Linked DNA regions of Homo sapiens: region 2 is linked to region 1. Evidence: fine-mapped expression QTL. A gene starts in region 1. The other region holds a variant in brackets. All regions are shown on one strand. Distances are between the middles of the regions. Region 1 holds the start of FLRT2 (fibronectin leucine rich transmembrane protein 2). Region 2 overlaps FLRT2 (fibronectin leucine rich transmembrane protein 2).

Evidence for each region. PIP is the estimated chance that this variant, and not a neighbour inherited with it, causes the effect. A credible set is the group of variants that fine-mapping cannot tell apart.
Region 2: its variant is the best candidate, but not a certain one, in a credible set for the expression of FLRT2 in spinal cord (GTEx, PIP 0.79).

Annotation. Positions count from the first base shown.
Region 1 is chr14:85,527,978-85,532,240 of GRCh38, reverse strand. It overlaps FLRT2 (fibronectin leucine rich transmembrane protein 2), which reads right to left and starts at 2,097. Exons shown (of 2, transcript NM_013231.6): 1 at 1,707-2,097. It overlaps FLRT2-AS1 (FLRT2 antisense RNA 1), which reads left to right and starts at 582. Exons shown (of 2, transcript NR_184170.1): 1 at 582-3,624.
Region 2 is chr14:85,586,244-85,590,506 of GRCh38, reverse strand. All of the region lies in intron 1 of FLRT2 (fibronectin leucine rich transmembrane protein 2), which reads right to left. Among named protein-coding and RNA genes, the nearest start is that of FLRT2-AS1, 57 kb to the right of the region's middle. The variant A/G (reference allele first, on the strand shown) is at 2,207.

The DNA of each region.
Region 1 (4,263 bases):
ATGCAACCGGAGAGTTTAAAACTAGCCCAGGACCAACCCCCCAGGGATCCGCTCAACTCTCCCCGCAGAAGAGTTTAAGTGGGGCAGTGGCCGCCACAGGCTGAGGATGATTTCCGGACGCGCCCCAGGCGCGACCGCACTACTCGTCCTCAGTTCAAAGCCTGAGTGACTTGGCACCACTTCCCCAATTGTTTTTTATTTCCTTCGCATCCCTGTTGTGTCTACCGCTTTCACGTATTTGAGAGCCTAAATCATGTTAAGACGACTTGGAGAAACGCCCGATTTGCCTCCCAAGCCACGCAAGGATCCACCCAGACGCACGCCCGCGCGGAGACGCACGCTGGCACACGCGCTCACACACGCGAGCACACACACGCGCACACTACCCGGTTCGTGCGCGCGGGTCGCTGTTCCTGTTGCATTATGCAAAGGTGGCTGGGAAAGCGCGTTGACTTACATTTACATAGCCCATCTTCTCCCCACAGTATGTGACTAATACGTATCCCGGGGAGGAGGGAGCGCGGCTGGGGGTGCTAATCGGAAGGGAACAGACAGTGAGTGCCATCTTGCTGGGAGGTTCCAGAAGCAAAGCGCCAACGACGACAGTAGCGGTGGCCTCAGCTCCACCAGTAACTGCCGCTGGCAGGAGCACCACACGCTCTAGGAGTTTCCCGGGTATCAAGTATGGGTCCAGCCCGTCCCAGTTATCCTCTTCCCCTATGGCTTCATTCCCGTTGTCAGTACCCCGACCTCAGCTTGCAACCTTGATCTTGGGCTTGATTATAAATGACGAAAGACCGCGGCAGCCTTCAAAGTGCGGGAGCGAGCCCCGTACTGGTCAGCGCGGCGGAGGGATCTTTCCAGGAGGCCCCAAGCCCCCAAGCCTGTGGAGAGACTTGGTAACAGCTGGCAAGGCCTGCTCCAGCCACCCTCGCTGGCTCCTTGCCCCTGCATTCAGCGCCTGAGGGCGTTATTCGCCCTCTCCCTGCGTCCCACGCAAGCGGCTCAAGGAACTCACTCGATCCGGATTCCGCCTCGTATGCTCTCCAAGCCTTCGCCACCTCCGCAGGCGCTCTAGAAAGGCGTGATGGCCCCAGCTCAGTGCCCGCCAGCCCGAAGAGGACAAGCAGGGCTGGAAGGGACTTGGTTTTGGAAAAAGCCCCACCCGCCCCCACCAACTGGAAGGAAAAGGAATTAGTATCCACCGCATCTGTTTAACTGCTAATAGATCCCAGATTACGGGCAGGTAGTAGGTTGGTGTCTTTAGATACAACAGCCTGATAATAACGCTGGTGACATTAACAACAGCTTGTGGAGGGGAGAGGGTTGTTACTGGTGAAAGTTAAGAGATTCAATCTAGGGAAGTAGGAGACTGAACTCTGACAAGGTTAGGGGCACTGAGAACCCCAATTTAGCATCGATGCATCTACCAGGCAAGAAAATTTGCGTTTTGACCCAGAACTCAGTCATGATGCTCCGTAGAGGAGGTGGATTCGACCAGCAGACAGATGTCCCCAAAGTCGAGAGAGAGCTAAGCTGCCTATTTTCTCTCCAGGTGAAAGACAAAGCCTAGAGCACCCCACTTAAGATGACCACCCCCAGCTCTTTCAAAAAAAAAAAATCCCCCGAAGAGACAGCGTGGTGCCAGCGTAGCAGCAGCTCGGCCGGTTACTGGAAACTTCACCTGGCAACGCAGCCCCTTTTACCTGACGGCTGCGTCTTCTCCTTGCAATGGGCTCATCCGAATCCGACAGGGTCAGGGAGGTGGAAAGGGAAGACGCTGGCGCGGCAGCAGCGGGGATCCCGGGGCATGGTATTGTTTTAGGGGTCGCCGCCGAGGTCCCTCCTGCCCATCGTTGAGAACTGCCACCCTGATCCCAGGGCTCGGTGGACACGGCGGCGGGAGCGGAGATGCCGCCTCGCCGCTGCTGGGCACCAGGGACGGAGGACCAGAGGCGCACCTCGGAAAGGAGTAGCTCAGCGCCTTGGCGCGGAGATTTGCGGGCACTGATGATATCTCGAGCGCTCGTTCCTCCGCGGTGACAATGGATAATGCCAAACGCGCAAGTGACGGCGACAGGTTTCGAACGTACAACTAACTACAAGGTACCCAGCCTGAGACAGTATGCTGCTTTTCCCCTCCTCCTCCTCTCCCTCCTACCAGGGAGGGAACTAACTTAACCCTGTGTGCGCCTGACACTCCCTAGAGAAGCTGGGATCGACTAGGAAACCGCAGGCAGCGGCTCCCGGGGGCGAGAGCTTTGTTCACGTGCGTTTCCAGTGGGTGTGTTGCTGTCTAGGGGCACTCGCGTGGCAAGACGCCCGTGGCTGGCTTCCAGCGCCCAAGATTCAAGGAAGGGAAGGAGCCCTAGCGTTTCATCCGGACCAGACCCAGCCCTCGGAGTCTATTTTTTGCCTCCAGTTACCGGATTTATTGAAGTTGCCAGCGAAGTTGGTTTTATTCCTTTACTTCTCTGCTCTCCGCCCCCGTCCACATCCCCCAACCCTGTATTATTTCCTGTCCTAGCTGCGCTTTAAAGATTCGGAACTTTTCACTCGTTCTAGCTACAGATTTTAACTGTGTTCCGTGTGCGAGACGAATTGTGGAGGGCACCCACCCACCCATGCCAAGTGTAAATGAAACCGCAAGAAAAGCTGCCTCCCACTCACCCATCCAGTGTCCGAGTAAGCCTAATGACACACATTCACATAACTAAGAAGACACGGGAAGATAGGGGTGCGGAGGACGGAGTTTGATGTGTGAATGGGAAATGGAGAGAGGGGACAGCGCGCGCGAGAGAAACAGCGCGAGCCTGAGCCTTAGAATGGAATAAACGGGAAACACACACAAGAATGACGATGCAAAAAATGTATCTAAGTCCCAACATTGACAGCAGAGGGTCAGCTTTAAGCGCCTACATTTTGATCCGCGAAATTTCCCAGCTTTTTTGGAGGCGGTTACATAGAGAACACAGGAGCCTCTGCCTTGGCCGCCCAGATGCTTTGCATTTTGTAAACAGCTTTGACTAAGTGCTCTGGACTTCCAAGAAGTTAACTGGAGTGGAAGGCGAGTCATATTGTGGATGCGGAATGGAAGCTTAGACAAGAAAAAACTGTCAGCAGAGCGCCTCTGCTCTCACCGTCACACCCAAATGAGCCAGGACGTCGCTCAGAGCGCAAACTGAGATCCACACAGGGACATCTTCAACCGAATCTTTCTTCTGTCTCCATTCCGGACTAAGGAAAGAAAGAAAGAAATACGGAGCCTTTATAGAGTATTCAGAGGCTACACACATGGATCTTGCTGAAACGGAGTTATTTAAAAACAGAGAAAGTGTGTTTTCCCATGAGATAGATGTTATAGTTTCTCTCTGAAACATACCCAAGTCTATGGGTGTCAATAATAGCCATTTCAAATGCCTCTCTGAGCCTTGCCAGCCCCAGAAGAGGCTGTGGGAATGCTGCTTCCAGCTTCCCCTGTGCAGAACTCCGTTGTAAATCCTTCTGAGTTTCCAAGGTGGCAGCAGAGCATAGGGATAGCTCCTCAAGCTCCAGCATCAACAAGGAAGATCACATTTTAGGACAAATACTCATCTACCTGCATTTAAACATCCATTTTCGTATGTAAGTGTACATAAGTATCCGCAGGAGGTTCTTCCTTTGAAATCTTGATCCAGGAAAGCAGCATAATTATTTCATCTTTAAGAACACATTTTAAAAAGGCAAAGCAGGATCTTTAAAGCAACAAAGGTTTTGCTTTCTGATTTATGCTGCTAGAAAATGAATGAGATTGAAAATGGGGGAGGGGGTGGTTGCAGATTTACAGAATTCATACTTTAAATTATTGGTGTTTCTAAACCATGAGCAAACCATGTTATGAGTATGTGCCACCTATTAAAAGCTATTGGTTGCATCTATTGTAATCACGACAAGGAAAATTAAGTAAGAAAAAATATCACGCCAAAGTACAAGCAGAATCGTTGTAACAAATTTCTTATGCACATGACCTATGAGTCAGCTTTAGAAATGTGTGATGATGGGGCCAGAGGAAGCAAACGAATAGGAAATGTGGCTCAGGGACTCCAAAGAGCAATAATTTTGCAGACTTAGAAAACTATAACAATTAGGTTACTTTATTTTTATTAGGAAACTCACTGATCCATAAGAGAAGTGGGTGAAAGAAAAACAAAAAGCAAATCTGCAAGCTTCAAAAAACAGAGGGTCAGCCCACTATTCTTAAGACTTCAGTCCTCAATAGTTTTC
Region 2 (4,263 bases), 58 kb before region 1:
TATACAAGATTTAATTTACTATACCCACAAAGAGAAAAGGAAGTATTCATCAATGCACTTCACCTATCATTGAGATGAAAAAGCAGACATTAGTGATTTGCTTTTCAAGTTCTAAACTCTTATGCTCAGATGAAAAAACAGAAGGGACAAGAAGACAGGTATTGTACAGCACATGGGTTAAGAGGAAGGAAATTCGTCTAGGGCATTCCCAGGCTCTGTCACACGGCTAGCAAAGTCATTCTAAAGGGGGCAGTTTTGCCTCACTGCCCCCACCCCAAGGAAATTTGGCAACGTTGGAGACATTTTTGATAGTCTTGACTGGGGATGCTACTGACATTTGGTGGGGAGAGACCATGAATGCTGCAAAATCCCATATGATGCACAGCTCAGCATCCTACAACAAAGAGCTCAAAAGGTCTATAATGTTATGTTTAAAAAAAAAAAAAAATCTGAGCAAAAACAACAAAACTGGAGGAATCACATTACCCTCAAATTATACTACAGAGCTATAGTAACCAAAACAGCGTGGTACTGGCATAAAAACTGACACAGAGACCAATGGAACAGAATAGAGAATCCACTCACCTACAGCGCATCCACTTTTGACAAAAGTGCCAAGAACATATGCTGGGGAAAAGACAGTCTCTTCAATAAATGGTACCAGGAAAACTTGATATCCATAGGCAGAAGAGTGAAAATAGACCTGTATCCCTTGCCATATACAAAAATCAAATCAAAATCTATCAAAGACTTAAATCTAAGACCTCAAAGAATTAAACTACCATAAGAAAACCTAGGGGAAAATCTCCAGGACATTGGTATGGGCAAAAATTTCTTGATCAATACCCCACAAGCACAGGCAGCCAAAGCAAAAATGGACAAATGGGATCACAAGTTAAAAAGCTTCTGCACAGCAAAGGAAACAATCCACAAGGTGAAGAGACATACCCACAGAATGGGAGAAAATATTTACAAACTATCTATTTGACCAGGGCTTAATAACAAGAAGATATAAAGAGATCAAACGACTATAGGAAAAAAGCTAATAATCCAATCAAAACACGGGCAAAAGATTTGGACAGACATTTCTCAAAAGAAGAAACACAAATGGCAATCAGGCATATGAAAAGGTGCTCAACACCACTGACCAATAGAGAAATGCAAATTAAAACTACATTGAGATATCATCACACCCCAGTAAAAATACCTTATATGCAGAAGAGAGGCAATAAAAAATGCTGGCAAGTATGCAGAGAAAAGGGAACTTTTGTACCCTGCTGGTGGGAATGCAGGTTAGCATAACCACTGTGGAGAACAGTTTGGAGGCTCCTCAAAATACTAAAAATTAAGCTACCATATAATCCAGCAATTGCATTACTGGATATATACCCCAAAGAAAGAAAATGTTGGCCATCTGTATATCAAAGAGATATCTGCATCCCCATGTTTGTTGCAGCACTGTTCACAATAGCCAAGATTTGGAAAGAACCTAAGTGTCCATCAACAGATGAATGAATAAAGAAAATGGAGCACTATTCAGCCACAAAAAAGAATGAGATCCTATCACCCATCCAACATGAATGGAACTGGAGATCACTATGTTAAGTGAAATAAAGCAGGCACAGAAAGACAAACATCACATGTTCTCATTTGTTTGTGAAATCTAAAAATCAAAACAATTGAATTCATAGACATATAGAATAGAAAGATGGTTACCAGAGGCTGGAAGGGTACTGAGGGGCTGGGGTGGGGGAAAAGTAAGTATCGTTAATGGGTAGAAAAAAAATAAAAGGAACAAATAAGACCTATTTGACAGCACAACGGGGTGACTATGATGAATAATAACTTAACCGTACATTTTAAAGTAACTCAAAGAGTATAACTGGGTTGTTTGTAACACAAAAGATAAATCCTTAAGAGGATGGATACCCCATTCTCATGATGTGGTTATTTCACATTGCATGCCTGTATCAAAACATCTTATGTACCTCATAAATATATACACCTACTATGTACCCAAAAAAAGTAAAAATTAAAAAAAAAAAAAAACTGAGCTAGTGATAGGAACTGGATCAAGTCATTTAATTTCTAGAAGGCCAAGTCTTATTTGAGTAATACTATCATTAACACAGCATACCTGCCTTGAAGGGTAGATGAGGGTACCACGAGAGACAATTCAAGCAAAGACCTTCATCCAGTTACTGAA[A/G]TGTTTATTGAATTGGAAGTATTTTTATTATTCTTAGTAATATTAAGGCCCGTCTGTCTTTCACTTAACAAGATGTGAGGAGAAGAAGCTATAAGAGGAGACAAAAATAGGCACTAATTTTAAGTGTATAATAGTATGAAGAAAATAAGATTCGGGACTCAAATAGTGACACTTGTTTCGTTCTGCAATATTTTTGTCTAATCCCATCATCATCATCAATAAGAAAGAAGCTGAAATATCACTCGGGAGGCTGAGGCAGGAGAATGGCATGAACCCGGGAGGCCGAGATTGCGGTGAGCTGAGATTGCGCCACTGCACTCCAGCCTGGGAGACAGAGCAAGACTCCATCTCAAAAAAAAAACAAACAAAAAAGAAGCTGAAATAAAAGCAGTCCCCCAGAACATTTCCTCATCATTCACCATGCCACAGTTCCAGACATCTTACTAACCAGGTGATTAGACAATACAGCATTGTGGGTAATATTTTAATCATGAGAAATTTATGCTAAAAGAGGATGTTAAAAAATATTCTCATATTAATATCATCTTTGAAATACGAGCTCTTCTTCCAACGATGAGTTTTTATGTAAAGTCTTCAGGGTTTTGATTTTGTTCTTTTGAGCTGTCAACGGTGACCACATCTAAAGAGGCCGCTTACATGTGTCTGCTGAACCTGCGGTAGGGTTTGAGGAATGGCAAAGTGTTCACTTAGAAAAAAAAAAAATTCATGGTCAAGTCCTTTAATTTGTTGACATAGTTGGAACTTGAAGATCAAGTTCCAGTTAAAATGACCTAGGAACTGAATATGCTTTTTCTGTTTTAGGTGGTGAGGAGGGCCAAACCACAAGATTATACATCAAATGCACAAACAAAACAAATCAGGAAAATCTCGGACAGCTGAAGTAGCTTTTGCGTAGGAATTCTTTGGCGCTATTGGCACACTGGTGTTTGCTGTCAGTGCCAATTACAATGATCAAGATGAGCTCTGCTTTCTTCTTTTTTTTTTTTTTTTTTCCATTCCTTAGCCAGCTACAAACTGGATGACAAAGCAGTTTCAAGGCTCAAACCTACTCATGCCCACTTCCTGAAATACTAAAAGAATGTAAGTGCTGGTGTGTGTATGTGTGTAGGTTTTCAAGGATCATTTTGAAAGCGAAGTACAACAAAGCTTCCTCGTTTGATGGTAAAATGGGCAATTGCAATACCTTTGTCTTAGATAGAGCCAAGGGCTAAATATCAAGTTAGATACTGGTTGTAGAAAGTAATATATAATTGTGTATAAAATAGCATGTAATTTCCCTATGGCCAAGCAGGAGAATATATACTGGTCTATAAAGGAAAACCAGCTCCACCTAAGCTCAATGAAAACCAGCTTATCTTTCCACGTCAACCTTTTGTATGTGAACTTCTTTCTTCTGACTTTGAGAAATAGCATGACCCCACTGTACAAATGACAGGATCACGACTAAACTGATTCTATATCTACCATGCCCATGAGAATTTGCCTGAATGGCGTTAAAATTTCAGTTGCTAAAACAGAAACCTAAACAAAGACCTTTTTTATTTTTTCCTTTTTACTTTGAGATATGTGTGTGTGTGTGTGTGTGTACATATATATTTACTTCATATATTTACCTATATATATCAAAATACCGTATTTTCAATTCCTAAACTGTGTAAGAATTGGCACATAAATATGAGTGAGTTTTATCACGATTATAAAGCATCAATTGTAAGTATTCTTTTTTTAAGTGTTCATTTTATTATAGTAAGAACATTTAATATGCTGTCTACCATCTTAACAAATTAAGTGTTTAATACAGTACTCTCAACTATAGGCACAATGTTGTACAGCAAATCTCTGGAACTTATTCATTTTCCATAGCTGAAACTGTATGTTATTGATTGAACATTGTTTCTTATATCAGTATTGTCAGTGCAGTAAGCAGAGTACGTAAGAAAACTCAGGCTCCAGAGTGCTCTGGGATTGAAGCCTGACTCCAGTGTTTACTGCTGTGTGACTTATGGACAAGTTACTTCACTAACCTCTCTGTGGCT